Linked DNA regions of Homo sapiens. The protein of the gene in region 1 interacts with the protein of each later gene in a pairwise test. Each region holds a gene or a part of one and is shown on either strand. Other genes may lie near its edges.

Evidence for each region.
Region 2: the proteins of IQUB (region 1) and PRR23D2 interact in a two-hybrid assay, tested with the Homo sapiens proteins (one large-scale study listed by BioGRID).

The regions. Positions count from the first base shown.
Region 1 is NC_000007.14:123,524,378-123,528,205, forward strand, and holds part of IQUB (IQ motif and ubiquitin-like domain-containing protein), read right to left. Parts: intron 1-3,828. UniProt on the Homo sapiens protein: Adapter protein that anchors the radial spoke 1 (RS1) complex to the A microtubule of outer doublet microtubules in axonemes. The triple radial spokes (RS1, RS2 and RS3) are required to modulate beating of the sperm flagellum.
Region 2 is NC_000008.11:7,779,226-7,783,153, reverse strand, and holds the start of PRR23D2 (proline-rich protein 23D2), read left to right. Parts: upstream 1-1,740; 5' UTR 1,741-1,917; coding exon 1,918-1,994; intron 1,995-2,757; coding exon 2,758-2,819; intron 2,820-3,064; coding exon 3,065-3,132; intron 3,133-3,360; coding exon 3,361-3,928.

The DNA.
Region 1 (3,828 bases):
CTTGAGCAGTGGTTTGTAGTTTTCCTTGAAGAGGTCCTTCATATCCCTTGTAAGTTGGATTCCTAGGTATTTTATTCTCTTTGAAGCAATTGTGAATGGGAGTTCACTCATGATTTGGCTCTCTGTCTGTTGTTGGTGTATAAGAATGCTTGTGATTTTTGTACATTGATTTTGTATCCTGAGACTTTGCTGAAATTGCTTATCAGCTTAAGGAGAGTTTGGGCTGAGACAATGGGGTTTTCTAGATATACAATCATGTCGTCTGCAAACAGGGACAATTTGACTTCCTCTTTTCCTAATTGAATAGCCTTTATTTCCTTCTCCTGCCTAATTGCCCTGGCCAGAACTTCCAACACTATGTTGAATAGGAGTGGTGAGAGAGGGCATCCCTGTCTTGTGCCAGTTTTCAAAGGGAATGCTTCCAGTTTTGGCCCATTCAGTATGATATTGGCTGTGGGTTTGTCATAGATAGCTCTTATTATTTTCAGATACGTCCCATCAATACCTAATTTATTGAGAGTTTTTAGCATGAAGTGTTGTTGAATTTTGTCAAAGGCCTTTTCTGCATCTATTGAGATAATCATGTGGTTTTTGTCTTTGGTTCTGTTTATATGCTGGATTACATTTATTGATTTGCGTATATTGAACCAGGCTTGTATCCCAGGGATGAAGCCCACTTGATCATGTTGGATAAGCTTTTTCATGTGCTGCTGGATTCGGTTTGCCAGTATTTTATTGAAGATTTTTGCATCAATGTTCATCAAGGATATTGGTCTAAAATTCTCTTTTTTGGTTGTGTCTCTGCCCAGCTTTGGTATCAGGATGATGCTGGCCTCATAAAATGAGTTAGGGAGGATTCCCTCTTTTTCTATTGATCGGAATAGTTTCAGAAGGAATGGTACCATTTCCTCCTTGTACCTCTGGTAGAATTCGGCTGTGAATCCATCTGGTCCTGGACTCTTTTTGGTTGGTAAGCTATTGATTATTGCCACAATTTCAGCTCCTGTTATTGGTCTATTCAGAGGTTCAACTTCTTCCTGGTTTAGTCTTGGGAGAGTGTATGTGTCCAGGAATTTATCCATTTCTTCTAGATTTTCTAGTTTATTTGCGTAGAGGTGTTTGTAGTATTCTCTGATGGTAGTTTGTATTTCTGTGGGATAGGTGGTGATATCCCCTTTATCATTTTTTATTGCGTCTATTTGATTCTTCTCTCTTTTTTTCTTTATTCGTCTTGCTAGCGGTCTATCAATTTTGTTCATCCTTTCAAAAAACCAGCTCCTGGATTCATTAATTTTTTGAAGGGTTTTTTGTGTCTCTGTTTCCTTCATTTCTGCTCTGATTTTAGTTATTTCTTGCCTTCTGCTAGCTTTTGAAAGTGTTTGCTCTTGCTTTTCTAGTTCTTTTAATTGTGATGTTAGGATGTCAATTTTGGATCTTTCCTGCTTTCTCTTGTGGGCATTTAGTGCTATAAATTTCCCTCTACACACTGCTTTGAATGCATCCCAGAGATGCTGGTATGTTGTGTCTTTGTTCTCGTTGGTTTCAAAGAACATCTTTATTTCTGCCTTCATTTTGTTATGTACCCAGTAGTCATTCAGGAGCATGTTGTTCAGTTTCCATGTAGTTAAGCGGTTTTGAGTGAGATTCTTAATCCTGAGTTCTAGTTTGATTGCACTGTGGTCTGAGAGATAGTTTGTTATAATTTCTGTTCTTTTACATTTGCTGAGGAGAGCTTTACTTCCAAGTATGTGGTCAATTTTGGAATAGGTGTGGTGTGGTGCTGAAAAAAATGTATATTCTGTTGATTTGGGGTGTAGAGTTCTGTAGATGTCTATTAAGTCCACTTGGTGCAGAGCTGAGTTCAATTCCTGGGTATCTTTGTTGACTTTCTGTCTCGTTGATCTGTCTAATGTTGACAGTGGAGTGTTAAAGTCTCCCATTATTAATGTGTGGGAGTCTAAGTCTCTTTGTAGGTCACTCAGGACTTGCTTTATGAATCTGGGTGCTCCTGTATTGGGTGCATATATATTTAGGTTAGCTCTTCTTGTTGAATTGATCCCTTTACCATTAAGTAATGGCCTTCTTTGTATCTTTTGATCTTTGTTGGTTTAAGGTCTGTTTTATCAGAGACTAGGATTGCAACCCCTGCCTTTTTTTGTTTTCCATTTGCTTGGTAGATCTTCCTCCATCCTTTTATTTTGAGCCTATGTGTGTCTCTGCACGTGAGATGGGTTTCCTGAATACAGCACACTGATGGGTCTTGACTCTTTATCCAATTTGCCAGTCTGTGTCTTTTAATTGGAGCATTTAGTCCATTTACATTTAAAGTTAATATTGTTATGTGTGAATTTGATCCTGTCATTATGATGTTAGCTGGTTATTTTGCTCATTAGTTGATGCAGTTTCTTCCTAGTCTCGATGGTCTTTACATTTTGGCGTGATTTTGCAGCGGCTGGTACCAGTTGTTCCTTTCCACGTTTAGCGCTTCTTCAGGCGCTCTTTTAGGGCAGGCCTGGTGGTGACAAAATCTCTCAGCATTTGCTTGTCTGTAAAGTATTTTATTTCTCCTTCACTTATGAAGCTTAGTTTGGCTGGATATGAAATTCTGGGTTGAAAATTCTTTTCTTTAAGAATGTTGAATATTGGCCTCCACTTTCTTCTGGCTTGTAGCCTTCATTTCATTCATTTCATCTTCCATCGCTGATACCCTTCCTTCCAGTTGATCACATCGGCTCCTGAGGCTTCTGCATTCTTCACGTAGTTCTCGAGCCTTGGTTTTCAGCTCCATCAGCTCCTTTAAGCACTTTTCTTTATTGGTTATTGTAGTTATACATTCTTCCAAATTTTTTTCAAAGTTTTCAACTTCTTTGCCTTTGGTTTGAATTTCCTCCTGTAGCTCGGAGTAATTTGATCGTCTGAAGCCTTCTTCTCTCAGCTCGTCAAAGTCATTCTCCATCCAGCTTTGTTCTGTTGCTGGTGAGGAACTGCGTTCCTCTGGAGGAGGAGAGGCACTCTGCTTTTTAGAGTTTCCAGTTTTTCTGCTCTGTTTTTTCCCCATCTTTGTGGTTTTATCTACTTTTGGTCTTTGATGATGGTGATGTACAGATGGGTTTTTGGTGTGGATGTCCTTTCTGTTTGTTAGTTTTCCTTCAAACAGACAGGACCCTCGGCTGCAGGTCTGTTGGAGCACCCGGCCGTGTGAGGTGTCAGTCTGCCCCTGCTGGGGGGTGCCTCCCAGTTAGGCTGCTCGGGGGTCAGGGGCCAGGGACCCACTTGAGGAGGCAGTCTGCCCGTTCTCAGATCTCCAGCTGCGTGCTGGGAGAACCACTGCTCTCTTCAAAGCTGTCAGACAGGGACATTTAAGTCTGCAGAGTTTACTGCTGTCTTTTTGTTTGTCTGTGCCCTGCCCCCAGAGGTGGAGCCTACAGAGGCAGGCAGGCCTCCTTGAGCTGTGGTGGGCTCCACCCAGTTGGAGCTTCCCAGCTGCTTTGTTTACCTAAGCAAGCCTGAGCAATGGCGGGCGCCCCTCCCCCAGCCTCGCTGCCGCCTTGCAGTTTGATCTCAGACTGCTGTGCTAGCAATTAGCGAGACTCCGTGGGCGTAGGACCCTCCGAGCCGGGTGGGGGATATAATCTCCTGGTCCGCCGTTTTTTAAGCCTGTCGGAAAAGCGCAGTATTCGGGTGGGAGTGACCCGATTTTCCAGGTGCCGTCTGTCACCACTTTCTTTGACTAGGAAAGGGAACTCCCTGACCCCTTGCGCTTCCCAAGTGAGGCAATGCCTCGCCCTGCTTCGGCTCGCGCACGGTGCACGCACCCACTGACCTGCG
Region 2 (3,928 bases), on another chromosome or scaffold:
AAAGGTAGAATATATATTTGGCACGTCCCTCATATTTTTATTCTTGTACTGGTTTGCAGTCCATAGGTTTTCAGCTAGACGTGACACACAGAAACTCACCATGAGGAGCCTTTCTCTTTCTTGACTGTAAAATATACATACTCCAGAATCATCAATAGAGGCTATTTCTTGAATATCTCAACCTGAACCCCGCAGCCAGAAAGAATGTAGGCAATTAATCCAATTTTATAACTGCAGCTGATATTCAGCTAATTACCTGCTGTTCTCCTCAGAAATTATCAAAATCCCCAAAGCAGAGAGTTCTCTGGATAAAGGCACTAATGTTCCCCTTGGAGGCTTTTAAGACATTGGCAAAATTAAAGGAATCTTCCTGTTTTCCTTTTATTCATCTAAATGATTTATCTAACTGGAGAAGAAAGCTTCAGTGCAAAAGGCATCTGCTAATTAGATTCAATTTTTTTTTAACATTTAAGGGAAACAGGGTCTATACTTCACCTAATAAAACTGATGAAATTATCAGCTAAATGCAAAGAGAATCCACAAACAAATTTATACAAGTTCTAGAGAGAGGATGAAGCCCTGAGCTCAGGGGCCTGTTAGAGATGGCACGCTCAGTAATGGTGCACCCTCACAGATTTTCCTTCTAGTTCAGTTCTAGTGATTACTGGATTACTGTTTTCCCCCAATACCATCTATTATTCTTTATACTGTCAAATAATTTTTAATCTTAAAATGACTAATTCTGAGTTCAGGCATATGGTGTCTGGCCACCTGCAAGAAGTTTAGGTGACTTTGCCAATAAGAATGATGGATTTGTAATTAATAAGTAATGTTGAAAGCAAAACTTGCATTACAATTCTGAAATTAGTCCAGCGGGGATACAGGCAAGAAATAAATTAACAGACAGATTAATACACAGTGATATATTAGAAATTAAGTAAAGGTTCTTTTTGTATTTTCCCCAGCTTGTCTTATAGTATTCGCTTCTTCTGTTTGGATAACTTTCCCCAGGAGATTCATTTTAAAACTTAATTCACTTAAAATAACGTATTTTTTTTTATTTAAAAATACTGTCAGCCCTCCACATCCATAGGTTCCATATTCATGGATCCAACTAATCTTGAATAGAAAATATTCACAAAAGATTTGCACAAGTTTCTTCAGAGAAACTTTAAATTTTCCATGCATCACATTCTTTTTGAGTTCACATAAATGACGTGACGTCTGGGCATTGCATTAAGTATTGTAAGTAATCTAGAGATCATTTAAATTATATAAATTAATGTGATTATGTTATATTCAAATTCTACGCCGTTTTATACAAGGGACTTGAGTATATACAAATTGTGGCATATTTAAAGTTTCCTAGACCCAATCCTTTATGTTTACTAAGAAACGACGTACACATGAACTTTACAGAAAATAACTGTCCTACCAAATTAATGAACAGACTACAATAGAAAGTAAATATTGCTAGTTTAAAATACTGTTATTTTATGTCACAATTATATGGTGAATCAGAGTAGAGATCTTGAATTAATTTTGATTGAATTAGGCTAATTCTGACTGGGTCACACTCATATTGACTGAGTTTTGATAAAACCACTCCCATGCTGGCCCTTCATGTTGTTTAATCAGCACCACTAGCCAATCACATTCATCCATTTTGACAAATCCCATGGCTCCACCTCTTATAAGACCCTTGGAGGATTTCCCCAAGAGCTCACTCTACCAAAGCACCATTTGACCGGTCCCAGGCCAGGACACACTCTTCCATGCTCTGGCTGTGCTGTGCTAGAGGCTGATAATTTTTCTCCAGGTAGAGTAAAAGATCAAGGCACGAACTATATAGATTTACAGAAAATAGGCCAAAGATTGAGATTTTTTTGACACAAGCAAGTCCAGAGAACTTTTACCATGTATGGTTACCGGCGCTTAAGAAGCCCCAGAGATTCCCAGACAGAACCGCAGAATGACAATGAAGGAGAGACCAGGTATGTTGGAGTATGTGGCTACTTTGGGTTGCCAGGAGGTTGACATGTGACTGTGTGTGACTGTATGTGTGTGTGTGTGTGTGAATGTATGCTAAAGGGCCAAACTAGGGCAGAGAAGACACCCTGGCCTGCCATGACATTGAATGTTATAAATTTAGAACACATTGGGGAGACATGAGACCCACAGTGGAGGCCACAGGATGCAGCCAGCATGGGGGGTTTCTGCAGCCTGTCAGGGGGCTCATCTCATGTTTCTTCCCATTGTTAATCTCTGTCCTCTGGGTAAACAGAAGTTGCCTCTTGTGTGGAGACAGGTAAACTGTGGGCATGATCTAAATTTTTTCCTTGTGCTCACTAGAAAATGGAACATTTCATGTCATTTATCACTCCATTCACACTGTAACTGCATAGACACAGGGGTTAGATACCCGGAAAATCAGCATCTTCTCCTAAAGTCCTCGGGCCAAATTTGATGTCCCTCCTTCTCATGTGGATGAGCTCCTGAAAAAGCAAACTGTTTCCTGTGATCGCCATGTCTTATCACACACATGCACCGATAGGAAAAGCCTCTAGAAAAGGAGAGGGTGGGATATGAGTGTTAGGACTTTCTGGATGCAGGTAGGATTTGGAGCTGAACACAAGTGCATGTGATTTTGGGCCACAGCAGCAATGTGTGCCGGATGACTAATGAAGTTTGGGGCTTGTGAGAATTGGACTTTGTGTCACTATGTGGAAGATTGATGGGTCCCTTTCTGTCCTGCAGTTTGGCTACCACACAAATGAATCCACCCAAACGTCGCCAAGTGGAGCAGGGTCCCAGTACAGGTAAGGCACTTTCCCTAATATTTTTTAAGATTCCCATGCCTGGAAGTCAGTGTCATGTCTCATGATACCATAAATGGAGAGGGTGCTTTCTGCAGGGTGAGTGGAAAGTCGTGCTTGACTGTTGGGGGCTGGTGTCCTGAGGCTGGCCAGTGCTGGGTGGTGGATTTCTGAAGGTCACATTCTGAAATGCAAGAGACTCTTGCTGGAAGAGAGCCTTAACCTCCCTCACTGTGGTCTCTCTGCAGGTGCAAAAAAACCCTCAATTTCAGGAGCTCCACACCTGAATTCATACCAGTCCCTGGAACTTCCCCAGGTAAGTTCCTGTGTCCTTGCATAGCAAAGATTGGACAGTGCTGCACAATCTTCAGGTTCAAGGGACATCCAGTGGATGTATATTTAGGTGGATTGGCATGAGCACCAATTCTGGGAGGGAGTTTGTATTTTAAAGTTGTAAAGGGTGAAGCTCCTGGCATCTCCCTCCCCATGAGCATCATTTGCAGCCTTTTTGGAGGGCAGAATACTGAGGACTGTCTTTCCACAGAATCAGCAGGATTCTGGCACTGAGGAGCTCATGATAGTCCTGGAACAAGGGACAGAAGTGAGGTTGAGCCTGGAAGAGGTCATCCTCATCTTGGCCCCAGAGACAGTGCTGCAGCTGACCCTGGAGAACACAGTCCTTGTGATTGTCCCTGAGCATGTCCTGAGGTCAGAAGATGGCCTGCAGTCCCCTGTGCAGATCCAGTACATCATACCTTCCGTTGATGACTTCAGCTTGGAGTTCCATGCTCAAGATGGAGACATCTCAGACATGAGAAGAGAGAATGTGCCTTTTTCACCTGCAGAAGAAGGGAAGGCAGCACCCCTGTATCAGCAGCCCTTGATGATACCCCAAGCAAACCACATGGCTGGGATCAGCCCTTCTTTCCTAGTAACCCCATTGTGCATTCCACGCTGTCGGGCAGCCTTCCCCCAATGCTACCCTCTACCACCCACACCTAGTCCTGTGGGACGCCCTAGACCAGCCGACTCCAGTTTCAGCCTGCATGGTATGGAGCTCTTGTGCACCTCCTCCCTCAGACCTATGCCCCCTTCACCAAGTCCTGGTCCCC